Linked DNA regions of Homo sapiens. The protein of the gene in region 1 interacts with the protein of each later gene in a biochemical or structural test. Each region holds a gene or a part of one and is shown on either strand. Other genes may lie near its edges. The genes, in order: CAMP and F10.

What was found.
Region 2: the proteins of CAMP (region 1) and F10 interact in a test that uses a peptide from one of them, tested with the Homo sapiens proteins (one study listed by BioGRID).

What each region holds. Positions count from the first base shown.
Region 1 is NC_000003.12:48,214,943-48,230,414, forward strand, and holds CAMP (cathelicidin antimicrobial peptide preproprotein), read left to right. Parts: upstream 1-8,552; 5' UTR 8,553-8,569; coding exon 8,570-8,770; intron 8,771-9,411; coding exon 9,412-9,519; intron 9,520-9,660; coding exon 9,661-9,732; intron 9,733-10,350; coding exon 10,351-10,482; 3' UTR 10,483-10,543; downstream 10,544-15,472. UniProt on the Homo sapiens protein: Antimicrobial protein that is an integral component of the innate immune system. Binds to bacterial lipopolysaccharides (LPS). Acts via neutrophil N-formyl peptide receptors to enhance the release of CXCL2.
Region 2 is NC_000013.11:113,120,994-113,136,385, reverse strand, and holds the start of F10 (coagulation factor X isoform 1 preproprotein), read right to left. Parts: upstream 13,588-15,392; 5' UTR 13,531-13,587; coding exon 13,461-13,530; intron 8,232-13,460; exon of another isoform or gene 7,961-8,231; intron 7,652-7,960; exon of another isoform or gene 7,509-7,651; intron 6,935-7,508; coding exon 6,774-6,934; intron 6,381-6,773; exon of another isoform or gene 6,340-6,380; intron 1-6,339. UniProt on the Homo sapiens protein: Factor Xa is a vitamin K-dependent glycoprotein that converts prothrombin to thrombin in the presence of factor Va, calcium and phospholipid during blood clotting.

The DNA.
Region 1 (15,472 bases):
TTGGTATAATCACCTAGGCACTAAATTCACAGGAGGCCATCTGCAGCTTCTAGCCTGAGAGTTCTCAATCCCAACCCCATGCCACGACAAACTGAACTGTGAGGTTGTGGCCTGAGCTTACACATTTTTCCCAAGTGATTCTAGTGGACCAACAAGGATGGGAACCCTCCTGCTCTGTGGAGATCAAGGCTCAGGGTGGTAAAGAGGCTTGCAAACGGCACTAAGTAGAGCAATGGCTTGGCTCGCAGCCATGTAGTCAGTCTCTCAGGAGACTCCTCAGGGCTGAGATGAGTATAGAGGTCCCCAAAAGACCTGTCCAGCATGTGGCAGTCCAGCCCTCCAGCCCTTGCCCTTTGCTCTGAACCTCCCAGCCTGAAGTTCTGGCTTCTGGACCCACTCCTCTGCCCTCCACTCCTTCTCCAGGGATTTGCTCACCCCAGCAAAGTTTTGGGATTCACAGATGGGCAACTTCTTGGGGTCCTCAGCAGCACTGAAGTACCCCCGGCAGTTCTTCACTTGCTGTTGGGGAAAAGAACGAGTTCAGGTCATGGCCATTTACTCAGGGGGCTCCAGTGTGGTGCCTGGAAAATTCCAGCCTGGCTGAAGGGGTTGTAATGATTACTTAACTTCTTGGCTTTCCTCCACGCAACTTGTGTCACATGAAGTAGTAAGTGGGAAAGAGGGAACTGAGCCTTAGCAGACGGTCCTGACACTCACCCTGTCCCATATTTCCACCCTCATGGCAGCCCACATCTGCATTTCCAGTTTGCTGCAGAGGGCAGGAGGCAGGGCTTGAATTCTTCCACATGTCCCCATGAGAAGGACAGCAAGGTTGGTGGGTGGGGGCATTGAGTCCAAGTCCTGGTTCTGCCGTTTTCTGGATAGGGGTCCTTGTTCAAGTGATTTATCTGTGGCCCTCATTTTCGTCATCAACTGGCTCATCAGCCTTATCCAGTTTCTCCTGGGGGCTCTCACCCTCTCCCCGCACTCTGATGAAGCCAGCCTGCCTCTCCTGCAACCCTTCTTCGGGGAAAGGAAACAAATGTTCTCATATTGGCACACAAAAGAGTACAGGCACACAAAAGAGGCAGCAGCCTCTTGGGCGGTCACTTGTTCCTGCAGCTCTGTGTTGGCCTAATCCTTGACTAACTCCCTAAGTCTTTTTCGCATATGCAGCCCCGAAGGCACTCAGATCCTGGAAAGGTCAACTGCTGAGGTTACACACTCTATGAACAGCATTAGAAATGGCTGGACATGTGCCCAGAACCCATTTGGAGACCTTGGCTCAGGTCTCTCCCCATTCAAGTCCTCAGAATCTGCATCCAGAAAGAGAGAGGACTGGAGTATTCAGGAGGTGGCCCCTGAAACCCTCTGTGACCTCAGGTTGGAGAGGAGGTAATTTGGGCTGCACATCTCAGCTCAGAAATAGCACCTGGCATCTGGTACCTGGCCTCCACGGCTCTTAGCATCTCACCATCCTTGGCCACAGGCTCCTAACCTCGCCCACAAGGCAAGGGAAGGATCTGTTCCCCAGTCACCTTGGGGAAGAGAGGTTCTAAACTGAGAGATAGTGGAGGATGGATCCCCACAAGCCATGATTCTGGGGCTCCCAGAAACTGCACCCCTTTCTCAGTGCAGCCTGAGTGATGCTCCTATAATAAAACCGCCACCCGAGGAGGGCCTACTATGCACCCTTGCAGAGCTGCTTCCCTGCAGCCATGGCATCCAAGGCCTTCTCCAGTCAGCTCCCTGCTGGAGGATGGCCCACTTCTCACTGTTGTCTCCCATACAGCGAGCTTTTTCTTTGGAGGCATTGTCAAGCAGGTGCTTCTGAAACATTTGGAAAAAGACAGCATGTCACAGGGACAAAGCTGGCCCTTCCCACCCAGGGTTGTCACAGGATCTTCTCTCCTTCCAGTTCCCCACCTCCAGCCACACTTCTTTGTCTAACTCAGCATTGTCCAATAGAACTTTCTGTGATCAAGGAAATGTTCTATATCTGAGACATCCACTGTAACTGACTGTTGAGCAATTGAAATGGGGGTAGTGTGACAGAATAATTGTTTTTTGTTGTTGTTATTTATTTACTTATTTTTTGAGACGGAGTCTCTCTCTGTCACCCAGGCTGAAGTGCAGTGGCACGATCTCGGCTCACTGCAACCTCCGCCTCCTGGGTTCAAGAGATTCTCCTGCCTCAGCCTCCCAAGTAGCTGGGATTATAGGCATGCACCACCACACCCAGCTAATTTTTGTATTTTTAGTAGAGATGGGGTTTCACCATGTTGGTCAGGCTGGTCTTGAACTCCTGACCTCAGATGATCCACCTGCCTCGGCCTCCCAAATTGCTGGGATTACAGACGTGAGCCACTGTGCCCAGCCGCCTTTTTAATTTTAATTAAGTTCAATTAATTTGAATTGAAATTGAATTGCCACTTGTGCTTATGGCTACCATACTGGCTAATGCATTCAAGTAGAAGTGAGCAAGTTCTGATGAACAGGGAGCAGTGAGAGGGAACCTGGTCAGGGCTCAGGTCAGGGAGGAGCCAAAGAAGGAGGAAGCAAAGAGTCCATCGGAGTGAATATGAGGGTCACTAAGCAGGGGGTGAACAGCAGGAGGCCTGGCACACAGTCTCTGGCCACTGGAGGCACAGGAGTGCTGGAGCTGCACAGGGTTTATGGATTGCTGACAAGGAGACAGGCTGGGAGCTGGGGAAGCGCTAAGGACACGGTCACCTGGCAAGAAGCTCAAGGCCTTGTCTTCCTCATTGGTGGCAATGTAGGGTTGAGAAAACTGGATTGTGCAATGGGCCCCTGGCTCTGGGTTGGTATTCCTGGACAAGACAGCATGTGATTACCTACAAGTGCCTTGGCCTTTCCCAGGAGAAACCATGCTGTGGTTTGACCGTCCCTCTCCCCTGCAAAGGACGACAGCGGGTTCCTCTGAGTGGTATATCCAATATCCAGGTCTTTCCTTTATGGCTGGGCAGAGCCTCCACCCCCGGACACCATGTCCCAGGCCCTTCTTATGAATCAGTCTAGGAAACAAAGGCACATTTACTGGAAACTGCCTATCACTATCCCGTGCTGTGTAGTGTTTCATTTGACAAATGATTTCTGAACTTGGGTCTGGACCTGCTGGGAGCGGCTCTTACCCATCTGGGCCCTCTGAGGGCAGAGCCCAATGCCGATTCTGAGAGGGGCCCAGTGAGGAAAGGAATCCTGACCTTAGGGAGTCTGTGGGCTGAAGGGAATGCAGGGGCTTGCCCTTGGGAGTCCCTGTCTGAGGGACAGACAAGACTGTCACACTTGGGAAGCCCTTGGCCTGGGAAGGAGATGCAGCCCCATAATCAGGAGCCTGGACAGAAGGAGAACTTGGGGAAGCCTTGTCTAAGGGGCATCCCAGGGCTTCATGACTCTTGTCTGAGGACAACTGTGGTCTTACCCCTGGGACTAGCCTGATGGATAAACACAGCCTGAGACTAAAGGTGGGGTTGGTGAGCTGTCTCCTAGCCTGGTGTTGGTGGGGGACGCATCACAGAGGATGCCAACTGGGGGCTGAAATCCAGGGGACAACCTGGAGAGGCTGAGTCTGAGCCAAAATATGACAGGGGCCTGGGGTAGTAGGTTATGTTATTAGCAAGAAGGGGAGCACAGTTCCCCAACAAGATACATATGCACAGTTTCATGCGTGCATATGTATCTTGTTGGGGAAGAGTTGGGCTAAGGCCATTGCCAAGTAAGGAGACCTGACCCTGACCTCACTTGCCAAAACATCCCGGGAGTACAGGACTTGACAGTGGACATGCACTTGCTTACTCACTGTTGCATTTGAACAAACACTGCAGGGCATCTCATTCCCATCCTACAAATATGAGAACATTATCAAGAAAACAAGGCAACTTGCTCGAAGTCACACAGCTAGTAATCGACGGTGCTTGAGACCCTCCACCCCAGGTCTCTTGGCAATACAATTCTGCAAGTGAAAGAAAGGCAGAAGGAGGAACTTGTCCTGAGTCTGGGCAGAACCTGTGATTGGCATTCCCTGTCTGCCACAGGGTATAAGCATACCCTGCCCCATGCCCCAGGTTTAGGGAAGGAAACGTCTGCCTTTGAGTATATATTCAATACATTGCTCCAATGCATTGCTGTCTACAAGGTTGGGGCTACTGTCCCAATTTTTGCACGAGAAAGGTTCAGGGAGGGAGGCAATTTACCAGAAGTTAGCTCTTGGCCTGAGTCACCCCAATTTTCTATTTTTGAGTCAGGGTCTTGCTCTGTTGCCCTGACTGGATACAGTGGCATGATCACAGCTCACGGTAGCCTCCATCTTCTGGGCTCAAGCAATCCTCCCACCTTAGCCTCCCAAGTAGCTGGGACCACAGGTGCACACCACCATGCCCAGCTAATTTTAAAATTTTTTTGTAGAGACAGGGCCTCGCTCTGTTGCCCAGGCTGGTCTCGAACTCCTGTCCTGAAGCACCATGCTTGGCCAACAAAGTTACTATCTCTGGGAGCACACTATGTTTACTTCTGAAGCATTAACCTAACAGGTCACATTAATAACAACAAAAACAATTCACATGTACTGGCCACAGACCATGTTGTATTTGACCCTCACAACAATTCTACAAACTAGACATTGTGATGATCATCCCTGTTCTACAGATGAGGAGGCAGGAGAGCAGACACATCGGTATGCAGATACACAGCTGGTCGCAGCAGGGCTGAGCCAGGAACCCAGTCAGCCTCATGAGGGAACCTGGGCTCTTTGCCTGCAAAGCCCTGGGCTTTCTGTGCTGACTATAGATTCTGGGCACAGGGAGGGACAGGGACAGTGACTCACCCACAGAGACAGAGGCTGGTGACGAATATGGTTCCTGGGATTCCCATCCCAGGACTCCCTCCCCAGTGCTCCCCAAGGGGATGAACAAACTGCCTGCTTGGTTCTCTACTTTTCAGACAAGTTGGCCATTCTGATGAAGGCTGTCTCAGGGGCAAGCAGGCCTGAGGAGGTGGGTGCTTCCACCAGGACAACCAGGGCTGCAGACACGGAGCCAGAGAGGGAACGCAGAGTGGGGGCTAAGCTGGGCTTTGTTCGCCAATGGGGGAGGGATTGTGGAGTGGGAGAGGGTAGCTCCAGCATCTGCTCATCTGTGGAAAGTCTCTCAGAGCCTTCAGCAGTCCCAGTGCACCAGGTTCCCTGATCACATTGTGTAGGAGTTGGAGCCTCCTGGGTCTGCAGGAGAGGAAGGGGCCACTTAGAGAAGTCAGGGTGGGAGATTCAGAGAGAGAGAGGAAAGAGAGAGAGATAGAGAGACAGAGGGACAGGGGCTGCCCAGGCCTTTGTGAAGGGACATTTATCTAGCCCTCAAGTCTTGATGTGGAAAAGCCTAACTTTTTTTTTTTTTTTGAGACGGAGTCTTACACTCTTGCCCAGGCTGGAGTGCAGTGGCGCCATCTCAGCTCACTGCAAGCTCCGCCTCCTGGGTTCACACCATTCTCCTGCCTCAGCCTCCCAAGTAGCTGGGACTACAGGCGCATGCCACCACACCCAGCTAGAGACGGGGTTTCACTGTGTTAGCCAGGATGGTCTCAATCTCCTGACCTCATGATCAGGCCACCTCGGCCTTCCAAAGTGCTGGGATTACGGGCGTGAGCCACCGCGCCCGGCTAAGCCTCACTTTTCTTTTCTCATTCCGCCTTGCCTAGAATCTTCTGATCACTCTATTAATGGGGTGAGCCATTATGAAAAAGGCGAGCTGGTGAGAGCCTCCTTTCTCCCTCTCTAGGAGGAAGGGGCAGCCATGGGTTCTAAAGGTCTGAAGTCAGCCGCCCTACCTCAGGTAGTGGACACCGACCTGCATGTGCCGAGGGCAGGACTCACTCCTGGAACCTGGGAAGCCTGGACCTTGTGCGATGGCCCTGAGAGGGAAAGCAAGTGCCCCTGAGTCCAGACTTCTGCAGTTGTATCAGAGGGCCTATGCAAGCTGCTTGGGCTCTGGCTGATTTCATGTGAGGGCGTGTCCAGCACTGGCCGAAGTGGAACGTCCTCTTGAGGCAGTTGGAAAGGGGCTCTGAATATGCCAGATCTGACCTAGAGGAACACAGGAGCATGCAGCTCTCACGCCCTAGCCTAAGGACTAACATTGCCATCTGCTTCTCCCCGGTTTGGCTTCTTGGGGATCCTGAAGCCAGTCAGAAGGGTGGAGGAAGCAGGAGAGCCCTGAGAGGTCTGATATCCCTGGATGGCCCTTTTCCCAACAGCCATAAAAGACCTGATGTGCAAGCCCTGCTTGACCAACAGGCCACTGGGGCAACACTTGAACTGTGAAACCAGGTTGCACAGAAGCCCACTTCTTCCTTCTCTCAAGGCCAGGTGTGCAACCGGTGGCCTTCGTCCAGGCTTCCACCTTCCAGGAGCCCTGCTGTCCAAGCCCCCAAGTGTCCCACAGGCCAACTGAGGTCAAGAGGTACCCCAGGCCTCAGGGCCACATGGCCAGTCCACAGAGGAGCTGGGACCGGAATTTGCCTCATGGACGCTGGACCCCTCTATCACTTTGGCCCTTTATCTCTCCTGGCTGTGATCTCTCCCTCTCCCAACACCAGCCACCCATCCCAGCTTGGTGTCTCAGCTAGAGCACCAAACAGGGAGTAATTTGAGGTCGAATCAGGAGAGACTTCCTGGAAGATGTAGGGGCAAAGAGGAGATTGCTGTGCCTGGTTGGAGGTCAGGGAAAGCTTCATGAGGTGAAAGGGCAGGCCAAACAGAAGGATCGGGGCAGAGCTGGGAGAAAGAGCAGGAGGCTCAGATGAGCCTATGTGATGGGGGCATACGTGACAGTCTGGCACTTGCAGTGTGCAGGGCTGGGGTGAGGGCAGTGGGAACCAAAAGGCCACAGGCCCTGATGCCAGCCTAGGGGGTGTGTGGGCTCCTGAAGGTAGAGGGTTGAAATGGCCAAATTGGTGGTTTAAAGGAACCCCTGGACAACGGTGTGGAGGGTGGACTGTGGTCTGGGGAGAGCCTGAAACCTAGAGAAGGTGGAGTCTGGAGGCTGGGGCAGCATTGCATGGGAGAGAAGATGGCGGCAGGAGCCAGGCAGGGGTGGAAGGAGAGGCCAGAGGGGAGTGCTTTCGGGAGGAAGGAGCCAAAGGTGCTTCAGGGCTCATGCAGTGGGCACTCAGCAGAAGAGCAGTCAAGGAGGCCCAGTGGGGACAACCGGGACGTTCATGGGAGTCTCGAACTCAGAGATACAGACTGGGTGGTGTCTGCCTATTATAACTGGTGTCCTGGGAGAGGGCGTCCCCAGGGAAACCCGAGGCCAGGGAAGAGAAGCAGCCCAGGAGGTGACCCCACACGCTCTCAATATTAAGAAGACAGCCCTTAGGGGAGACCAAGAAGGAGCCACCAGGGAGGCAGGAGGGACAGCAGGAGAGTGGCATCAGGGGAGACCGGGGCAGCAAGAAGGAAGGCTCACCAGTGCCTGTGCAGACAAAGACCAGGCTTGAGGGTGGCCATGGACCAAGGGTGGGTTGGCCAGCCTTCAGTGGCCTTCAGCATGAAGAAGAGTGAAAAGATGGGGTCAAGAAGCGTAGACAACCTTTCCTAAGACTTGGCTTGGGAGAAGCCATGGTGAAAGGCCATGTCTGGAGGGGCTTGGGAACATTTTGAGACTGAAAAAAACAGTGAAGAAGGATGCAGAAGGGGATAGATGGAGCAGAGCCTTCGTCTGGCTGACGGCTGGGTCCAGAGAGCATGTGGTATGGCCTTGAACTGAAAGGGCAACTTGTCCCTTGCAAGAGTGAGTCTCTAGGTTGGGGGTGGCTACTGTCTTCATTTACCAGTTCTTTTTTTTTTTTTTCATACTGAGTCTCACTCTGTTACCCAGGCTGGAGTGCAGTGGCATGATCTCAGCTAACTGCAACTTCTGCTTCCCGGGTTCAATGGGTTCAAGTGATTCTCATGCCTCAGCTTGTAGCTGGGACTACAGGTGTGAGCCATCATGCGTGGCTAATTTTCATATTTTTAGTAGAGATGGGGTTTCACCATGTTGGCCAAGCTTGTCTCGAACTCCTTATCTCAGGTGATCCGCCCACCTTGGCCTCCCAAAGTGCTGGGATTATAGGCGTGAGCCACCGTGCCCTGCCTCATTCATCAATTCTTAATCGATGCCTACAGGGTGCCAGGCAATGCCTAGAGCTGGAGATTTAGCAGTCCATCATACTGACTCCTGAGGAGTAGAAGGATGTAGAATAGGCACCTGGCTCTCTTCCTCTCTGGAGGGATTTAACGCTCTTGAGCACCCCTGGCTATGACAATCTCCGGTCAGGTCTGGGAGGTTGTCAGAGATGAAGAAACCACTTCCTCATCTTGCACACAAGGAAGGCCTCACTCACTGCCCAGCAAGTCCTGTGAAGCAATAGCCAGGGGCTAAAGCAAACCCCAGCCCACACCCTGGCAGGCAGCCAGGGATGGGTGGATCAGGAAGGCTCCTGGTTGGGCTTTTGCATCAGGCTCAGGCTGGGCATAAAGGAGGCTCCTGTGGGCTAGAGGGAGGCAGACATGGGGACCATGAAGACCCAAAGGGATGGCCACTCCCTGGGGCGGTGGTCACTGGTGCTCCTGCTGCTGGGCCTGGTGATGCCTCTGGCCATCATTGCCCAGGTCCTCAGCTACAAGGAAGCTGTGCTTCGTGCTATAGATGGCATCAACCAGCGGTCCTCGGATGCTAACCTCTACCGCCTCCTGGACCTGGACCCCAGGCCCACGATGGTGAGCTTTGGGGGACATTCTGCTCTGCTCTGGCTGGGCTTGGCCACGTGTTGTTCCTTCTGCTCCTGCTGCACTGCCTGCCAGGAGGGCATCTCCCCCTTTAAATGTGGTCCCGTGTTTTCCAGGGAACCTTCTAGAGCTCGTGTCTCCTCCCAGCTCGAGAGCTTCCTGCCTTATAATTCCTGCTGTGGCAGAGATACCCTCACCCCGACCCCACGCAGGTTTTGGGACTTCTGCGAGCTCCAGGCACTAGAATGGGGTCATTGGCTCTGGGCAGTGACCTCCTCTGCTTTAAGTCTCTTCTGTACCACGTTACCCCACATAGGGAAGAACTCTATCCAGACTTTAGGTTCCAGTGGGCATGTCTTGTCCCCCAGGAAGCCCCCTGACTTCCCTTGCCCCCACCCCAGAGTGGGAGGGGCTCCTTGTTAGAGCTCATCTGAGGTCTGCTCCTACTCACTGTTCACCTAGGAGGGTAGGAATGGCTCAGTCCTCCTCCCCTCAATGCCCCAGTGCCAAGCCCAGCACCCAGTGCCCGTCGCACATCAGGTACTGTGGAAAGCCTGCCCTCTTGGTGGGGAGGTCATGGACACAAATCAGAAAATACAAGAATGGGCCTCCCCATTTCCTCCTCTGACTAGGATGGGGACCCAGACACGCCAAAGCCTGTGAGCTTCACAGTGAAGGAGACAGTGTGCCCCAGGACGACACAGCAGTCACCAGAGGATTGTGACTTCAAGAAGGACGGGGTGAGGCTGGGGGCTGGGGGTGTTGGTGGGTGCCTCCCAAGGAGCTGAACAGGGGGCACCTGGGGAATATTTCCCACTGGGATGTGGCTGGGAGGTCATGGCAAATGGTTTCAAGTTTGACCTTGAGCTTCTCCTTTCCAGCTGGTGAAGCGGTGTATGGGGACAGTGACCCTCAACCAGGCCAGGGGCTCCTTTGACATCAGTTGTGATAAGGTGAGTGGGCTGTTCTGGGATGCAGGGGCTGATGGGGGCATAGAGTGTGGACCATCCAATGGGTCAATTAACTACTCCCCCAACCCAGGACAGAGAAAGCCCCTCCTACCCAGGGCTCTTCCCCAAACCTGAGTTCCATCTCCAGGGCCGGCTCTGGAATCCCTTAGAGCGGTAGATCTCCAAGTGTAGCCCTTCCTGGGGACTCGTTAGATATGCAAATTCTCAGGCCCTACTCAGACCTACTCAGACAGACTCTGGGTAGGGCCCAGAAATTCGTATTTTGATAAGCTTTCCAGGAGATTCCGGCTTCTGTAAAGTTTGAGAGCCACTGTCTAAGAGTACTCAGCTCTCAGCCCTGTGTTCCCATCTCAGTGTTGCTGGGCTGGGCTGTGTGACCCTGCAGAGCCCCTCACTATCTCCGGGACTCTGTTTTCTCATCTTTTTATTGGGTGTAGGGATTCAATCACATGCTTCAAAGGTCACAGCCAGAGGTTGAACTGGGGCCCCAAAGCTCCTGCGGGGGCCCACGAAGAGGGGCGTCTAGGTGGGGAGGGGTCTTGGATTGACCCTGGGTACATCCCCGACAAGGAACCTGTTTCTTCCTGTACACAACCCCAGGATAACAAGAGATTTGCCCTGCTGGGTGATTTCTTCCGGAAATCTAAAGAGAAGATTGGCAAAGAGTTTAAAAGAATTGTCCAGAGAATCAAGGATTTTTTGCGGAATCTTGTACCCAGGACAGAGTCCTAGTGTGTGCCCTACCCTGGCTCAGGCTTCTGGGCTCTGAGAAATAAACTATGAGAGCAATTTCCTCAGGCTTCAGTCTCACTTGTTTTGCCTCCTCTCTCTCACCACAACTGAGCCCTTAGCTCAGGGAGTCCACGTGTGAGTGTGAGTGTGTGTGAGTGTGACACAGAGGTGGCGAGGGCAGTGTTCCATCCAGGAGGACACAGGGTAAGGCAGTAGGGCCAAGAGATCCAAGATGGCATTCCCATTCTCAGTGGAACCCCCAGTGGGGAATTAAGGAGCTCTACTCTGTGTGTGGTGGTGGGGGAATGCTGTGGAGCTGTTCCTGCTCATGGGGAGGTGACATTCAAGGGAGGGGCCAAGCGTGTTGTTAACACTCAGAGAAGCATGGTCCAGTCCCATGGGTGGCTGGCCAACTGGGTGCGGTCTCCCTGCAGGTACAATTCCCATAAAATTCCAATGCTTCCTAAAAGACTTAACTCAGGAAAGCCCATAACTCCTGGCATTTCCTCTGGCATTGGGACACATCACAGTTTCTTCAGGTGGGTAGCAGATTTAACTTGTGAGCTTGTGTTTAGGGATTGTTAAAAACAAGAATATGGCCAGACGTGGTGGCTCACACCTGTAATGCCAGGACTTTGGGAAGCGAGGCGGGTGGATTGCTTGAGGTCAAGAGTTTGAGACCAGCCTGGGCAACATAACAAACCCTGTCTCTACTAAAAATACAAAAATGAGCTGGGCATGGTGGTGCGTGCCTGTAGTCCCAGCTACTCGGGAGGCTGAGGTGGGAGGATTGCTTGAGCCTGGAAGGCAGAGGTTGCAGTGAGCTGAGATTGCGCCACTGCACTCCAGCCTGGGTGACAGGGTGAAACAAAGGTGACTGGGCTCATAAAAACCAAAAACCTGCCAGGCGTGGTGGCTCATGCCTGTAATCCCAGCACTTTAGGAGGCTGAGGCTGGTTGATCACCTGAGGTTGGGAGTTTGAGACCAGCCTGACCAACATGGAGAAACCCTGTCTCTACTAAAGTGGCAAAAATTAGCCAGGCATGGTGGCACATGCCTGTAATCCCAGCTACTTGGAAAGGCTGAGGCAGGAGAATCGCCTGAACAGGAGGCGGAGGTTGTGGTGAGCCAAGATCGTGCCACTGCACTCCAGCTGGGCAACAAGAGCGAAACTCCATCTCAAAAAAATAAAATAAAATAAAATAAAAACCAAAGACCAAGAATATGTTGGGTGTGGTGGTGCACACCTGTAATCCCAGGTACTTGGGAGGCTCAGGTGGGAGGGTCACTTGAGCCCAGGAGTTCAAGGCTGCAGTGAGCTATGATCATGCTAGTTCACTCCAGCCTGGGCAAAGGAGTGAGACCTCGTCTCTAAAACAAGCAAACAAACAAAAAAAGGAGAATCCTGCTCAGTGGAGTGAGGTGCTGTGGCTAGAAGAGACATGCAGAGTGTGACACACAGGTCGCGACTCTGTTGTGCTGGTGTTTCAGACATGGATCGTGTTCTCCCCACTCACCATTCTGTAGCCACTAGAAGCACCTGCAGCTTTTTGCTATGGGGTTGCTCAACTGGAAGTACTGGGAAGTCTATGCGCCAGGGAGCAGCCTCAACCAATGATAGGTGGGAGCTGGTGGAAAAATATTTGTTCTTCTCACCCGTGGGGGGCACACTCAGAGGTGTGTTTCACATCTCCCAGAGGTCCCCAGGTGGGCTACCCTCAACAAAGACCTGTTCATGACCACATCCTCTTCTGACTTGTTCGTTCCCTGTCTCACTTCTCTACACTCCTGCAGGTGCTTTCTGTAGTTGCTTCCCAAATACACTACTCTCACTTAAATCCTTAACTCAGGTCTGCTTCCAGGCCAACCTAAACTAAGACACAGGCATCCCTCTCTGAGAGGAAGAGAAGGCAAAACCTCACAAGAACACTTGCTTTGTTTTCTGTTATGCTTGCTTCTTCTTTTCTTTTTTGAGATGGGGTCTCACTATGTTACCCAGGCTGGTCTTGAATTCCTGAGCTCAAGCGATCTTCTTGCCTCAATTCCCAAAGCGTGAGCCACTGTGCCCTGCCCATGCTTGCTTCTTCATGACGAGCAGGTGTGGCTGATTTCAAGCAGGTTGGAGGAGGTAGATGCTTCTCACTCTGTATCATTACAGAGTGCTAGAGAGAGTTCTAGGGAGGAAACTCAGGGGCATATGCTGTGTCAGAGCCAATTGTTAAATTTTCAGGAATTTTTTTTTTTGAGACGGAGTCTCTCTCTGTCACCCAGGATGGAGTGCAGTGGCGTGATTTCGGCTCACTGCAAGCTCCGCCTCCCGGGTTCACACCATTCTCCTGCCTCAGCCTCCCGAGTAGCTGGGACTACAGGCGCCTGCCACCACTCCTGGCTAATTTTTTGTATATTTAGTAGAGACGGGGTTTCACTGTGTTAGCCAGGATGGTCTCGATCTCCTGACCTTGTGATCTGCCTGCCTTGACCTCCCAAAGTGCTGGGATTACAGGCATGAGCGACTGCGCCCGGCCTAAATTTTCAGGACTTTTTTGAGCTCGGTGTTAAATTCTTGGCGGCTTAAAATTGGCCATGGTGGGAGGCAGTATTTACACCATGGAAATCTGCAAATGCTGCAAAGCAGCATCCCCAACCCCAGCTGTCACACCACTGCCCAAACTGAGGGAGGGGTCACTCACAAGGATACCAAGAGCCTGTGCCGACTGCATCTATTTCCAGTTTCCTCCCATGATTATCCATCCTGCTACCGTGACAACCCTCTTATTACCCCTGCCCTGCCTTGCTCTTTGATAGTCTACATGGGCGTTAATGAGATGGCCCTCGTCATGAACCAGATAGATATAATCCAGGCTGGATTTTTTTTTTCAAGACGGACTCTTGCTCTGTCACCCAGGCTGGAGTGCAGTGGCGTGATCTCGGCTCGCTGCAACCTCTGCCTCCCGGGTTCAAGCAGTTCTCCTGCCTCAGCCTCCAGAGTAGCTGGGATTACAGGTGCCCGCCACGCACTCAGCTAATTTTTGTATTTTTAGTAGAGATGGGGTTTCACCATGTTGAGCAGGCTGGTCTTGAACTCCTGACCTCATGATCCGCCTGCCTCAGCCTCCCAAAGTGCTAGGATTACAGGTGTGAGCCACTGCACCTGGCCTTGGATTTTAATATTATACATTCATTGCTATTATAGTCATTTTAATCTTCTGATTTCATTTTATTTATTTATTTATTTTTTGAGATGGGGTCTCACTCTGTTACCCAGGCTGGAGTGCAGTGGCAGGATCTTGGCTCACTGCAACCTCCACCTCCCAGGCTCATGCAATCCTCCCACTTCAGCCTCCCGAGTAGCCAGAACCACAGGTGTGCACTACCACGCCCGGCTTATTTTTTGTATTTTTAGTAGAGACAAGGTTTCACCATGTTGCCCAGGCTGGTCTCAAACTCCTGAGTTCAAGTGATCTACCCACCTCGGCCTCCCAAAGTGCTGGGATTACAGGCGTGAGCTACCACGCCCGGCCCAGTATCTTGATTTTTAGCATGCAGACTAGTTTTACCTGATTTTGAACTTTATTTATTTTATTTTTTATTTTTATTTTTTATTTTTTTTTGAGATGGAGTTTCACTCTTGTTGCCCATGCTGGAGTGTAATGGGGCGATCTCGGCTCACTGCAACCTCCGCCTCTTGGGTTCAAGTGATTCTCCCGCCTCAGCCTCCCGAGTAGCTAGGATTACAGGCATGCACCACCACGCTGGCTAATTTTTTTTTTTTTTTTTGAGACAGAGTCTCGCTCTGTTGCCCAGGCTGGAGTGCAGTGGTGCAGTGTGGGCTTACTGCAACCTCAGCCTCCCAGGTTCAAGCAATTCTCCTGCCTCAGTCTCCAAAGTAGCTGGGACTACAGGCGCGTGCCATCACACCTGGCTAATTTTTTGCATTTTTAGTAGAGACAGAGTTTCATCGTATTAGCCAGGATGGTCTTGATCTCCTGACCTCATGATCCACCCACCTTGACCTCTCAAAGTGCTGGGATTACAGGTGTGAGCCGCCGTTCCCGACCTAATTTTGTATTTTTAGTGGAGACGGGGTTTCTCCATGTTGGTCAGGCTGGTCTTGAACTCATGACTTTGGGTGAACCGCCCGCCTTGGCCTCCCAAAGTGCTGTGATTACAAGCGTGAGCCACAACGCCCAGACTTGATTTTGAACTTTAAATAAGTGGAATGATATGATACATATTCTTTTTCCTGGCTTCTCTCTCTTCATATTATGTTGGTGAGATCACCTCTGTTGATGATGTGAGGTAGAGATCAAGTTTCTTTTTTTCTTTTTTCATACGGATATCTAATTGACCCAGCACCTTTTATTGAAATAATTATTTCCCAACCCCGACATATTTTTTTTTTTTTTTGAGATGGAGTCTCGCACTCTCGCCCAGGCTGGAGTGCAGTGGCGCCATCTCGGCTCACTGCAAGCTCCGCCTCCTGGGTTCACGCCCTTCTCCTGCCTCAGCCTCCTGAGTAGCTGGGACTACAGGTGCCTGCCACCACACCCAGATGATTTTTTGTATTTTTAGTAGAGATGAGGTTTCACTGTGTTAACCAGGATGGAAATCTCCTGACCTCGTGATCTACCCGCCTCTGCCTCCCAAAGTGCTGGGATTACAGGCATGAGCCACCGCGCCCAGCCTGACATATTTTTTAAATACTGTTCTATTTTCTGATTATAAAATCAAGACACATGCCAAGCATGGTAATATGTGTTTGTAGTCCCAGCTACTTGGGAGGCTGAGGCAGGAAGATCACTTGAGCTCGGGAGTTTTAGAACAGCCTGGGTAACATAGCGAGACCCCCATCTCTAAAAAATTTTTTTAAAAATTAAGACACATTAAAAAGCCTTGACAATCCTGAGCATTGATAAAGTTGTGGAGGGTGGAGCCATCCTGGGGAGCCATTTGGAAGTACCTAATAAATATGAATATATGTACACCTGT
Region 2 (15,392 bases), on another chromosome or scaffold:
AGGGTAAATGCCCAGAAATGGGATTGCCGAGTCCTGTGGTAACCTTATATAACTTTATAAGAAACTGTCAAATTCCTTTTCAAAGTGGCCGTGCCATTTTGCATTCCCACGAGCAGTGTATCAAAGTTCTGCTTTCTCCGTGTCTTAACCAGCGCTGTTCTGTGTCAGTGTTTTTTACTCTATGAGTATATAGTCGTTCTTATTGTGGTTTTTATCTGCATTTCTGTAAGAGCTAATAATGTTGAGTATCTTCTCACATGTTTATTTTCTATCCATATATCCTCTTTGGCGAGTTGGCTGTTAAGGTCTTTTGTTTAACTGAGTGTTTATTTTCTTCTTCTGATCTGTTAAGATTTCTTTATATATTCCGAATATGATTCCTTTGTTGGATATGTGATTTGCAAATATTTTCTCTTAGTTTGTAGCTTGTATTTTCATCCTCTTAACAGTGTTTATTTCTGAAGTGCAAAAGGTTTTAATTTTGATAAAGTCCAATTTATGACTTTTTTCTTTTATTAATCATTCTTTTGGTGTCAATGTCTAAGAATTTTTGCCTAGCTCCATGTCATAAATTTTGTTGTATTTTCTCCTAAAAGTTTTATAGTTTTGTATTTTATGTTTGGATCTATTATCTATATTGTGTTAATTTTTGTATAATTGTGAAGTTTAGGTCAGGTTCATTTTTTTGCATATAAATATATAATTGTTCCAACACTGCTATGGTCTCAACATGCCCCCCATACATATGTTAAAATTTAATCGACAATGTAATAGTATTAAGGGTGAGATCTTTAGGAGGTGATTAGGCCATGAAGGCTCTGCCCTTGTGAATAGGATTAATGTCCTTATAAAAGAGGCTTCACACAGTGTTTGTCCCTTCTGTGCTTCTGCCTTCTGTCAGGTGAGGATACAGCCATGAGGCACCGTCTTGGAAGCAGAGACCAGGCCCTCATCAGGCCCCATATCTGCTGGTTTCTTGATCTTGGAGGACTTCCCAGCCTCCATAACTGTGAGCAATAACCTTATTCTGTTTATAATTTACCCAGTCTGATCTATTTTGTTATAGAAGCACAAACAGACTGAGACTAATATAATTTGTTGAAAAAGACAATTCTTTCTTTTCTTTTGTTTTTTTTTTTTTGGAGACAGAGTTTCGCTCTTGTTGCCCAGGCTGGAGTGCAATGGCTTGATCTTGGCTCACTGCAACCTTCACCTCCCAGGTTCAAGTGATTCTCCTGCCTCAGCCTCCCGAGTAGCTGGGATTACAGGCGCACACCACCACGCCCAGCTAATTTTTGTATTTTTTTAGTAGAGACGGGGTTTCACCATGTTGGCCAGGCTGGTCTCGAACTCCCGACCTTAGGTGATCCACCCACCTCGGTCTCCCAAAGTGCTGGGATTACAGGCATGAGCCACCGCGCCCGGCCGAAAATTGATATCTTAATATGTTGAGTCTTTCAATCCATGAACACTGTATGTGTCTCTATTTATTTAGGTCTGTTTAAATACTTTCATTGGAATTTTGTAGATTTTGGGATAAAGATCCTGTATATGTTTTATTAGCTTTACATATAAGTATATAATTTTCTTTGAAGCAATTGTAAATGGCATTTAAAAATTTTTGGCTTACAAATAACTGTGCATTGCTATTACATAAAAATGTGATTAACACATGTGCTGACCTTGTATTCTGTGACCTTGTTACACTCATTTGCAAATTTTAGGAGCATTGATATGGTTTGGCTCTGTCCCCACCCAAATCTCATCTTGAATTGTAGTTCCCATAATCCCCATGTGTAGTGAGAGGGACCAAGTGGGAGGTAACTGAATCGTGAGGGTGGTTCCTCCATGCTGTTCTCGTGGGAGTATGTTCTCATGAGATCTGATTTTTTTTAAGAGGATTCCCCTTTTGCTCGGCTCTCATTCTTCTCCCTCCTACAGCCATGTGAAGAAGAGCACGTTTGCTTCCTTTTCTGCCATGATTGTAAGTTTACTGAGGTCTCCTTAGACATGTAGAACTGAGTCAATTAAACCTTTTTTCCTTTATAAATTACCCAGTCTCGGGTAGTTCTTCACAGCAGCGTGAGAAGGGACTAAAACAAGCTTTTTTCCCCTTCACATTCTTTAGGATTTTCTATATGCATGATCATGTCATCTTCAAATAGTGATAACTTTATTTCTTTTTCTTGACTTACTGAAGGCCTTCCTTAGAGCTAGGACTTCCAGTATAATGTTGAATTAGGAGTGTTGGGAATGGACATTCTTGTGTTGTTCCAGTCTCAGGGAGAAAACCTTCAGTTTTCACCTTTAAGTATAATATCAACTGTAGACTCTTTGTAGATGAACTTTATTATGTTCATAAAATTCCCTCCTATTCATATTCTGCTGATAGGTTTTTTATAAAATCATAAATGGATGTTAAATTTTGCCAGATTTGTTTGTTGCATCAATTGACATGATTATGTGGATGTTCTCTTTTGTTTATATGGTGGATTACATAATTATTTTTAAATATTGAGCCAGTCATGTGTGCCCCAGAAAAACTCACTTGGTCATGGTGTATTATTACTCTTTTAAAAATATATTGCTGCACCGTTTGCTAATATTTTGTTGAGGATTTTTATGTCTAGATTCATGAGAGATATTGTTACGTAGGGTGGTTTTTGTTTTCAGTATTTGTCTGGTTTTGACATCAGGGTAATGCTGGCCTAAGACAAACTAAGAAGTGTTCCCTCTTCTATGTTCTGGAAGAGTTGTATAGAATTGGTGTTCTTTTTGAAATGTTTGGTAAAATTCTACCAGTGAAACCATCTGTACCTGAACATTACTTTTTCAGAAGGTTTTAAATTAAGAATTGAATTGGCAGGTATCTCTTTCACCTTGTGTATGTTTTGGTGGCTTGTGGTATTGAAGAATAGGCTCATTTCATCCAAGTTCAAATCTCATGCAAATTTATATATGCAGAGTTGTTCAAAGTATTTTCTTATTATACATTTAACATCTACAGTTTCTGTAGTGATGTCCCCTCTCTTCCATTTCCAACATAGGTCCTTTTTCTTGTTTTTGTTTGTTTGTTTTTATTCCTGTCAGTCTTGTTTGAGTTTCATCAGCTTATTAATTTTGTCTATTATTTTTGTTTTAAATTTCTTTGATTTCTGCTTTTTCAATTTCCTTTTGGTTTATTTTTTTCTTTTTTTCTAGTTTATTAAAGTGGAAGCTTACATAAACAATTTGAGACCGTCTTTCTTTTCCCATGTGAGCATTTAATGCTATAAATTTCCCTTGAAACACTGCTTTTTTAGCTGCATCCCACAGATTTTATGTTACATATTCATTTTTGTTCAGCTCAAAATACTTTCTTACTCCCCTTAAAATTTTCTCTTTGACTCACAGATTATTTATACATGTGTGACTTAATTTCCGAGTACTTAGGGAAGTTTCCAGTTATTTTTCTGTTAGTAATTTTTACTTTAATTCCATTATGGTCAGAAAACATACTTTATGTGAGTTCAATCTTTTTATTGAGGTATGCTTTAAGACACAGGATATAGTCTACCTTGAGGAATTTTCCATATGTGGAAGGAAAGTGTACTTTGCTATTGTTGAGAATCCTATAAATGTCCATTAGATTCAGGTCAAGTGATGTCTGGAAGACTGGAGGAAAAAATGATAAACTCACAGCCAGTTGTATCATATCATACATCTAATTGTAGTCTTATTCTGCAATACACTGCGATTTACTTTTTAGGGTCGTCAAATAGCTGCTACATGCATTCTATCCATGTTTTGGAGCTACACTCAGTGGGAGAGGCAGTGTGGAATGTGATTTCTTCATCTTATCTGGAATTGGAACTTGTTGATAACCTTTAATTCAGTCGTCTCTCTCTGGAGAAGCCACTCTTAGATGATAATCTAGAAGAAATGCATGCATATGTGTTTTCCTAATAGCAATATTTAGAAATAACTTATATGGCCAAACTCTGAAAAGAGTAAATGCATCATACAATAAAATATAGCTTAGCTATAGGGTAGCTATATATAAGTAAAGAAGAGTGTTTGAGAAACGATGCTGAGTGAAACATAAACTTGGATCAGCATTATTTACTTTTACTAAAGAAAAATTCTACCAGTGGAAAAAAATATATGTATATATAAGAAGTATTTGAAAATATTTCCGAAAATTCTAAATTTTTTCTGTTAGAGACAAGCCATTTATTTGCTAACAAGTAATAAAAAGGAATTCTTAATTTAATTAAGAATTAGAGTAGACCTTGATCTTTTGCAGAAATGCAAAGATATCTGAGTCACACAACTTAGACAATTAAAATTTTCTAGATAGACGTGTCAATGTTGCGCTTTCCATTGTATTAGTGGCTGCTACATTCTCTTTCTTCAAGTTTCATGCCAGGAGTCAGAAATATTTCCTTGATGTTGTGGGAGTCTGTGAGAAACATGGTAACACATTTGATTGTCACGCTCCAACCAGCTGTGGGCGGAAGCCCATATTCCAGGGTTGCATGGAAGCTTTCATCTATGAATGTGGCCTCATCATCTTTGCTGGCCTTGTCTTGTTTGTCAACAGCTGCTGCTGTTGCTGCATGGAAACATTCAGCTATCTTCATGACAAATAGCTCAAAGTGCTCAGTGAGACCCTCTTAGAGAGATCATTTGGTCAAAGAGCTCATTATCTGCAGGTGATAACAGATAAATGTGGGACTGATGTAAGTCACTTTCAGGAACTCCTTGACAAGTTTATCAAGGCGCCTGAATATGTTCTGAGGTAGAAGACTTTCAAAAGCTTTTGTTACATAGATATCACCAATAATTTTTTGAGTTTCTTCAGTTCCAAAGAGGTTAGTTTCTGGCAGCGTCACACCCAGCACTTTTTCAAGCTCTTCTACCACACTGATTCTCCAGAAGGGTGAGGAGAAGTCAACCCATAGGTTTGGCTTTCTGAGCCATCTGGATGGTGGGTGACCTTGTAACCACCTGTGATGTGCTTCATCCCTGACATAATCTTTTCTTGGATTTCAATGAGATCATGACAGTCTGCACAGACCATATAGGGTGGCAAATCAAATACATTCTCTTATTCCTTAACTGGCATCCAATTTCATAAATCCAGTCAATGCTACTAACCAGCATCTGAAGGTAGAGTCCTGGAGCAATTCTCAAATACAAGTTAATGTCCAGCTTGTTGTAGCAGGTGATGAAAGGCTTAGCCCCTGCTACCCGGGATGACGTTCATCATGAGGGTTTCAATGTCTAGAAATCTCAACTCATCCAAAAACCTTGTCATATATGTGGTGATCTTAGGGCAGATGATACACTGCTTTCTCAGAAAGTCACTCAGGATCAAATCCAAGTACTCAAATAATATTGGGTCTCCTTGCCTTTGAGGCTAAAGTAAGGATGGGGCAACATGTGAGCCAGGAGGCAGCAGTGCAATTTTGCAGGGGCTGATGCTGCGCTCGCCCTTCTTGGTGTTTCCTAGATTTTCCTGGACTCTGAGTACGTCTCCCTGAGGCAGTTTATTTATTGACTTATAATTCCTTGACCTGGCCATAACTTGTAACTTCACCCTGGTCCGCAGGGGTCATTAGAAGGTGAACTTTCCCCAGCTCTTTTGGCATGGATCTCCAGGGTGACATCAGTCAGGTGGTCCCAGGCTGCAGGTGACTGCACTCCGGGATGAAGCAAGCGAGTAATGTCCACATGGAAGCTGCAGGGGTCTTCCCCAGTAACCTTCGGCGGTGGCCTGCGCTGGGGGACCTGTAAGGGGCCTCAAAGTTTCCATTTGGGTCCACAGTTAGTGGTGTGGCTGATGGCACCAGCCGCGGCTGGCCTAGCTGTTGCTCACTGAGCTCCGGCTTGGCCCCCTTCTCGGCTACTTTCTTCTCTTCAGCTCATTCTTGTCAGTTCGGCATCACCACCGCCCACTTCCACTTCAGAGCCCTGTCCTGCAGGCACCTTTCCTGATGCCTGGGGTGAGGAAGTCGAGACCCCTCGGCCATTTCCAGGTTCGTTCGAAGCCCCGCCTCTTCGGGGGAGAGGAGGGTAGCGTCTTCCGCGCGGGGCTGCTGCGGCTGCGCAATCGCGGCCTGGTGGCATTGCTCTCCTCCTACTGCGCAGGCGCGATGCTGGGTTCGTCGTCCGGTGTGGATGCCGGTCTTCCTGCTGCGCAGGCACCGTGCTGGGTTCGCGGCCTGGCCTCAGTGCGTGTCCTTTTGCTGCGCAGGCGCAGTGCCGGGTTCGCCGCCCGGCCTCAGTGCTAGTGCTTCTGCTGTGCAGGAGCAGTACTGGGTTCGTGGCCTGGCGTCAGTTGTGCGCCTGCGCGCTGGCGCTCTAGGCTGTGGCTCTCAGCGACTACGGAGGCCAAGGCAGGACGCGGGCTGCGGGCGTGGGAGGGCACGATCTCAGCTCACTGCAACTCGGCGAGGCGCTGGCCGAGACCATGACTATTGGTTTTTAGGTTAACATTTTATTTTTAAATAGAACTTAACTCTGGCAGAAGCCCTGTGACCCTCAAGGGACTTGGGCGCATCCCTCCCCGCTGAGTCCTCGCCGGGAAGGAGTCAGCGCGGGGGCGGCACTGATGTCCCTGTGGGCAGGACTCCGCCGAGGCCTCGATTTGCTGGGCCCCGCCCCTGAAAGCCTTCGCGCACGCTGCCCCTTCCTCCAGGCCGCCCCCCTGGATGGACGGAGCAGCGGGGCCAGCGAGGGCGCTGTGGCCTGAGCTCCTTACCAACAGCCAGGCTATCCCCAGCCCTTACCGTCTTGTCGCTGTCCTCAAAGACCTCGCGGGCCTCTTCGTATGAGCAGGTCTCTTCCATGCACTCTCTTTCGAGGTGTCCTTTCTTCATCTCTTCAAGAAAGGAATTGGCCCTCGTGACCCTCGCCAGGATGTTGTTGGCCTGCTCCCTGCGGATGAACACTGGAAGGCAGGGAGGACAGGGTTAAAAGCTCTGGTCACCCTCACCCAGGCTCCCCCTCACCTATGCTCCCTGACTGCCATGTCCCTTGCCATATCCAGATCACAAAAGGCGGATCACTCTCTTGTAAACCAAAAATAAAATTCTAAGCCCCCAACTCACTGAGTGGACCCGTCCTCTCTGCCAAGGGAATTCCATAGGAACCTGAAAGACTAGTTGAGGCCATGAGGGGAAGCAGGTCCCACACGCCTCATTATTTCTTCCTTTGGAATTCGGGCACAGCTGACCAGCATTCACGTTAAGAGACCTTGAGGCTGACCAAACAGAGTCTTTGTAGCAATAAGATACCAGTTTCCAACCTGACTTCTCTAGTATAGGATCACATGACATATAGCAGGCCCTAAAATAAATGATTTTACTCCAAATTGTATTTGTTTGACATATTTTGAAATGGCCCTGCAAAGCTATCTCAGGGAAATCCACATTCTGTAGAGAACCCCCTTACCATTCCAGGTCTTTTTCTGAGCTGAGAGTCTAGCACCTTTTTTTTTTTTTTTTTTTTTTTTTCTCTTTAAGATGGTGTTTTGCTCTGTCATCCAGGCTGGAGTGCAATGGCACAATCTCAGCTCACTGCAACATCTGCCTCCCAGGTTCAAGCCATTGTCCTGCCTCAGGAGGAGATTCTACTGTCTCAGCCTCCCGAGTAGCTGAAACTACAGGCAAGCACCACCACACCCGGCTAATTTTTGTATTTTTAGTAGAGATGGAGTTTCACCATGTTGGCCAGGCTGGTCTTGAACTCCTGACCTTAAGTGATCCACCTGCCTCAGCCTCCCAAAGTGCTGGGATTACAGGATGAGCCAAGGCGCCTGGCCATGTGTGTAGCACCTTTTAAAGGTCTGAAGAGGAAACAGTTGCCATCTATTCCCTCTAAGGGTGGCCACCTATGAGTCTTCATCTACATAACAAGAACCTTGGTCTCCACAACCTCTTATCTTAACCCAGATACTCCTTTCCATTTATTCCAGGTCTTTAGATAATAACTCTTTCAACTGATTGCCAATCAGAATATCTTTGAAGCCACCTATGACCTGGAAGCCCCCACCTTCCCCTTTTCTGGAACGAACCAGTGTACAACTTATGCTTATTGATTGGTGTCTGTATGTAACTTCTGTCCCCCTAAAATACATAAAATCAAGCTGTGACCCAACTACCTTGGACACATGTTCTCAGGACCTTCCAAGGCTGTGTCATGGGTCGTGGTCCTCACATTTGGCTCAGAATAAATCTCTTCAAATATTTTACAGAGTTTGGCTTCTTTATCAACACTTTCCTCAGGCACTTTGGGGGCTGTGGAGGGAAATGCCCATTTCCCCCCTCCCCCCAGTTCTCTATGAGGTACAGCATGAGGCACCTGCTCTAGACCCATGCACCCTTCTCTGGAGAAGTAGACACATCCCACCCAATCAGCTCACCAGCCTCCTCACATGCTCACGCTGGCTCAGCCTGGCCACCCAAGCCCCCTTCCTTGAATTCTCCCTCCCTAGGGTGCTTTCAGCCCACTGTTCTGTGCTTTGGCTCAAGCTGTGCCCCTTCAGCCTGGCCCCACTCGTCTTTAAGGTCTCTGCTCTTTGTTATGTGGGGATTGGTGATGCTGTTTCAATTACAAACTATAATAGTACAATTTATGAAGTGCCAGGACACACATACATGCCAACTTTCAAGAAATAGTATTTATTAGTATTTCCTAAAATACAGTACTTAGTACAAAGTTTTCTATTTGATTCTACTCTTTTAAAAAAAAATACTGAGTTGATTTCATGACTGGCAAATGAGTCTTGATCTGCTGGTTAAAATGCCCTGGATCCGAGAGTCTGTGTCCCTTGTAGAGTGTGTGTCTGTGGGCTGTGCTGTCCACATCTCTCTGCCTGTGTCTCCTTTGTCTCTCACCCACTCCTCCTCCTCTTTTCATTTTGACAGCCTCAGTTTCTTTTCTTGGCCCTCTGTAGTCTTTTTCTGTGCTTTTTTTCCACTGAAAAATTCAATGTCTCACTACAATAAAGATAACTCTTCCAACTGATCTCTCTAGCACTGACTTTTGTCCTGAGCTCCATGTTTTCAGCTCTCTCACTATGACAGATGCCTTCCCTCATCTCAGAACTCCAAACTCTCCATGTCCAAAATTTAAAACAAGACTGCAGAATCAAGCAATCTTGAGCTTCAAAAACACCTTAGTCACTTATTATTTATTATTGGCAGAAGGGAATTATAATATCTACTCTTAGAGCTGTTTTAAAGATTGTATAAACTCCTAGTGTTGAGTTTGGTATACAGAAGGTGCTTAGTAAATCTTGGGTTCATTCCTACCTCCAGTTACTTTACCTTCCAAATTCCCCATTTCTTTTAGTGACACCGACATTATCCCACCAACGCTAGACTTAGATTTATTATTTCTTGACCCTGCCCCATTACTCTGCGTGTCTGCTCCACTCCCACACACTTGCTCTGAAATGCAGCCCACACGTGGCTCCCTGCAACCTGCAGCCTCATGTCACCTCCACTCCACAAAAGGCACTGAGGAAGCTGAGGGGTGGGGAATGCCCATCTCCCTTGGGGCCTCTGGCTCTCATGTTGGGATGACCACAGCCTCAGACAAGTTATCCAAGCCTGGCTTAGTGTTTCCCAAACTGGGACTCGCGGGCCTCCTGGGCTCCAGTTGGGGTCTGAAGACCGCGTTCTGCCTTGCCCTCGGTGTTCTGACGCACCTCCATGTGAACACCTCTCTTGGTACCTTCTCTCTTCCCCTTGGTCTCCTTCCTTGTGGCCAGATGGACATATGCCTGCTTTTTTCTCTGCTACCCTAGAGCCACAGTGATGGTTCACAGACTTGCCACAAGGATTGGTCCCCACTCAACTGGAGCCTGACGCCCTCACTGTCTCTGGTCGATCCCTTGCGCCTCCTCTGACCTCTTAGAGGAACTCGCTGTTCTGTGATAGCGGCCACAGCTCTGTTCCCCTTGGCATCCACCCCCGAGCATCCCCAGGCTGATTGACCAGTAAGAAGTCACCTTTCCTTTGCAGCCCCTGTCCAGTTCCCGCCTTTTCCCATCTCCCTGAAGCCTGCTCAGCTCTCCCCAGCTCATGGGGGTAGGACACGGCCTATAAGGTTGAGCTGGACTGTGTGAGGAAGAGGGTACAGGTGGCAGGCACGGGGTGGAAAGGGTGATGCAAGGAAGTCAAGGACTACCCAGAATCTGCCTCTAGTGGTCTTAGAACAGAGCCCAGGGTCTTCCCATGGCCAGGCCTCCCAGGCCTCACCACCTTCAACTCTGCCCTCATTCACCTCTCTCTGCCACACTGGGCTCTGCGCTGACCCTGGCTGAGCCCAACACTCACACCCCAGGACTTTTGCACCAGTCACCTCCCTGTCTGGAACATTCTTTCCACAGATACCCAAGTGGCTCAGGCCCAGCGCCCTCCGAGACACCCTCCCTGACCACGCCCTCTGACGTTGCCCCCACTCGTGTCTCTTTCATCCCCTTACACTGTGCTATTTGTCTTCTAGCACCCAACCCCTCTCTGACATTACATGCTGACAGGCTTATCCTTCCCTCCGCTGGAAAAAGACTTGACGTGTTTGGTCACAGCTGTATGCCCGTGCCTAGCACGGCCGGAACTTAACCAATATGTGTTGAGGGAATGAAGGAAAGATGGCGTGCCTGGCTCAGCCCTCTGGACTGAATCTGGGCGCTTCTGCTATCTGTTATGGCTGAGTCGCATCAACGCTTCAGTCAGACTGAGCAGGCCGGGTCTGGGCCACGTGGCCACACTTTCTGATGTGAGTAAAATGGGATTTTGGCAAAACGAAATTAAAACAAGGTTTTTAGGCACTTGTCTCAAGAAATTAATGGAACACTCTAGAACTCTGATATGGAGCATCCAGATTGGTAGACATTTGTCGTGTGGTTTGTTTCTTCAGAAGCTGTTGGGAGCATTGCAATCCTCGAGCACACAGTTGTGTTTGTTGTTTTGGCAACATCAGTGAATTCCACAGTCAGCAACTGCATTTGAGCAAGTTTTACCAGCAAGCAAAATTTTCAGTCAGTAAGGTCCAAACTCATGAAGAATGGGTTTAAACTTGTTGAATGTAAAGATTGAAACTGAAGCCACGTAGCTTTAATGATTGCCAGTACAACAGCAGTAGTTTAAAGGCTGGCACTGCAGGTGCTCTGCGTATTCTGATTTTATTAAAATAAAAAGTTGGATTGCAGAAAACACTCACAGGTGGCAGGACAGGGCTGAATAATGTCCCTCCAAATTCATGTCTTTCCCAGAACCTCAGAACCTGACCTTAATTGGAAATAGAACTTTTGTGATGTATTTAGTTAGGAAGACATTTTATGGGAGTAGAGTGAGCCCTAAATCCAATGACTGGTGTCCTTCTGAGAGAAAAGAAGACAGAAAAACAGCCATGGTGAGAACCCCATGCGATGATGGAGGCAGCGATGGGAGCAATGCTCCCACAAGCCATGGGCTGTGAGGCCGCTGGCACCCCGAGGCCAGGAAACAGGCCTAGAGCAGACTCTCTCCCAGCCTCTGGAGGAACCAGCCCCGCTGACGCCTTGATTTTGAACTTCCAGCCTCCAGAGCTGTGGGAGAAATGTTTCTGTTGCTTTAAGCTACTTGGTCCATTGTCCTTTCTTGTAGCAGTACCAGCAAAGGAATGCTGAGGTCCCACCGCCCCAGAAGAACTTCCGTGACTGCCAGGACAGCTGTGCTCGTTTAAAGGCTAGACTGCAGATGCTGTGCGCATTCTGATTTTATTAAAATCAAAAGTGTGCACAGCAGGGTCCTGAGTGGGACCTTCTGGGACCTGTGTTCAGCCCCACCCACCCCACAGTGCAGCTGCCGAGGCCTCTGAGGCAGAGTAGGGGAGAGAGATGGCCTGGCCCTGGCTCTCCGGGGCTGGCCATGTCCACCCAGGGTCCAGGCCGGCCCCCGGGGACACCACAGGCCATGGTTATGAGCCAGGCCCGCATCACACAGCTAAGGGTGCCAATACCCTGTGGACCCAGAGGTCCGCGAGGTGGGCGCCTGCATTTCCCATTGGCAGGAAGGGAAGCTGGCGCTCCACCAGGACTCTGCATAACTCCCCTAGTTTCCTCCTGTGGGTCTGGGTGGGCTCCTGGCCTGTCTTCTCATCCCCACCCTCTGCTTCTTCCCAGGAAGAGGAGTCCTGCCAACTTCCATTCCCAATAAGCCAGAGCAGCTTCCAGAGTCCCGGGCCGGGCTTAGGGCCTCGGGAGCCCCGGGCCGGGCTTAGGGCCTCAGGATCCTAGAGCATTCCGGCTGCAGAATTTTCTACCAATTCGCGGAAGCATCTGTCTGTTTGCAGAGTAGCTTTGCTGTCGATGATGATGGCATGGGTCCTTCCAGGGCCTTGTTCCACCCACGCTGATCTCATCCCACCACAAGCATCACAGTGGGCTCCTGCAGGGGGCAGTGTGGCCTGAGGGGGAGGAAGAAGGCTGGGCGAGTTGGAGCCACACAGTACCCCATGAAGACGGGAGTCCCGTTCCGCGTGGGAGACAGGAAGATGTGGCTCAGGGGACAGAGGCTGGGGAGGGCAGGGGGTTGAGGGTGGGATGGAGAAGACCCCCGTGTGATGTGACTGGAGCTCCAAGTCACCAGGCGGAGGGGCCGTTTAGGTCAGTGATGCACTGAGGATCCACTCAGCCTTCCCAGGGGTCTCCCCTTTCCACCCCACGAGGGTCTCCCCCTGCTCCGTCTCTCCCTCACACATTCCCTTCCCAGGCCTGGGTCCCCTTGGTGCCCCTGCCTGTCCACTTTGTCCAGGATGCAAACAAGTCTAGGGTCCCTGTCTCTCGTGTCCCCACCAGAGGGGCCTCCTCTTCCTCCGCTGTCCCCAGGCTTGCCTGGCTTCTGTCCTGTCTGGGCCTCTGCTTTTGGACAGACCCGGGGGTCCTGGACAGCCCTGCTGCCCCCACCTGTCCAGCTGTGCATTAGGCAGCTCCTTCCCCGACGGAGCCAGTCCGAGAGTGGTGGCACTGGCTCGGCTCAGCCTCCTCCTCCCTGGGAGCTCCTCTGCTGTGCCCCTCGTCCTGTGCCTCCCTGTGGTGGCAGATGGCTAACTGTCCTGTCTCTGCCTGCCCCAACCCCTCCCTCTCTCTCTGTCTCCGTCTTTCTACCTCTGTCTCTGCCTCTTGGCCTCCCATCTCACTGTGTCTCCGTTTCTCCTTCCCTCTCCCTTTCTCTCTCTGACTCTGTCCTTGTGTTTTTGTCTCTGTGACCTCTGATCCGCCCGTCTGACTCTCAGCCCCAGGGAGCCACAGCTGGCCTTGAGGATGCCGTTGGCTGGAAAGGCCAAGCCCAGCCATCCGAGCCCAGCCTCTGGCAGCACTCAAGGCACCCACCGTCCAGGCTGCAGAGATGAGAGGGTTTCCCCAACTGCCGCCCCTCCCTGCTCCCTGGCGCTGCTTTTGGGTCTGAAGGGCGAGGGGCACTTACGACTTTCCCCGAGCAGCAGGAGGCCAGCCAGGGAGGCACTGAGCAGGACGAGGTGCAGTGGGCGCCCCATGGTGTGGCCGAGTACTGTGTCCCTGTCCTCACTGGGACAGGCTGCTGGAGCAAAGTCCACGCCCCAGCTGGGATGGCTGTTGTCTGGCTGCTTATCACTTGGCTTAGGCCTCCTGATTGGAGCCGAGACCTGCTGGCGAGGCAGGGGAGTGACCACGCTGGGAACACATCCACTCTGGCCCCACCTTCCCCAGGCAGAGCTGGGCGGCCAGAGAGGCCCCGCAGAACCTCATCCTCATCAGTCACCAGGGCCGCGGGTGTGGGGACTTTCTGTTCTAAGAATAAAAACATCATTTCGTGCTCATTTTGTAGTTTCCAGATGTTTACATTTAACTCTCAGTCCTCACATACAAATATCATTTTCCCCATCATTTTTCCAGAAGAGAAAACTAAGTTTAGAGAGCGCAGAAGCCTGAGCCGAGGCCGCTGGCAGTGAGCGTGGGATCTGAGCCCAGGACTTCTGCCCCAAGGCCCTGCTTGTTTCTGGGCGGGCCCTTCCGCTCACAGCCACTCTCTGGGTGGTATCAGGTGGTCTCATGTCACGGGGGGGGCTTGGCATCTGCACCATGGCCTCCCACAGGCCAGGCTGGCACCTGCCCCACCCACCCCCAAACCTTCTGTGCCCGCATGGCCCCAAAACGTACTTCTGTGGGGAGTGACCTTCCCGTGACCATCTGGAGGGACAGGCTGTGTCTGAAGCCCCTCCTGACCTGCCCACCACTGGCCACACTGTTCCGAGGCTGAGAGGGCTTCTGGGCTCGTTCTCCAGTGCAGAAACCTCCCATCACAAGGTCCTGAGTGTCTCTGCTCAATGGCTGTGGGAGTCACTGGGAGGTGCAGCCGGGCTTTTTGCCTCTGGGGTCTCTGGAATAAATGGTCTAAAGCTTGGCCAGTGTGGCGATCACTGCCTGCTATGCCGTAGTGGCCGGGGAGCAATGCCCCTAACACCCACAGCACTGGCCACTGCCTCATGGTGCATCTGCCTTGATGGGTCGCCCTGTCTCGCAGCCACCTGCACATGAGCCTGGTGTGCACACATTGTGCGTCATTGTGCCTGGCACACAGGAGGCACTCACTGAGCCCCACCCGACTGCACAAACTGATGATGCTGGATGCCAACGCCAGGCTGGCCTCCCACGGCGGGCACCACGCACAGCCTGGTCCTCTGAGAAGGGCCTTCCTGGTGGCACCAGATGTCTGACTCCTGCCTCTCCTGGTCTCCACCCTCTGACATCGCCTCTAGGCATGTTTGTATGGAGAGACCAATGCGGTGTGTGCACCAACAGCAGGATGCTCATGGCAGACACGCAGTCTTTGTCATCAATGCTGGGTGGCGATGCTGGCTTTGGTGGCCCAAGCCTGCCGCCTCATCCCACCCTGTCCCAGGCCCATGGCCAGTGGCCTCCCCGTATTCTATCTCGCCACTCACAGAAAGCTGGAGCTGAGCCGTGGCAGGTGGCACGTCCCATATGAAACATGTAGCCTTTGGGGGCGCCCAGGCCCTTCAGCGAAGCCTCTGGGGAGTCCCGGGCCCCCTCCTCCGGCAGCACCATGAGGTGGGCGCCTGCATTTCCCATTGGCAGGAAGGGAGGCTGGCGCTCCACCAGGACCCCGCATGACTCCCCTAGTTTCCTCCTGTGGGTCTGGGTGGGCTCCTGAACTGTCCTCTCATCCCCACCCTCCGCTTCTTCCCAGGAAGAGTCCTGCCAACTTCCACTCCCAAGAAGTCAGAGTGGCTTCCAGAACCCTGGGCTGGGCTTAGGCCCTCAGGAGCCCCGGGCATTCTGGTTGCAGAATTTTCTACCAATTCACTGAAGCATCTGTCTGCAGAGTGGCTTTGCTGTCGATGACCATGGCATGGGC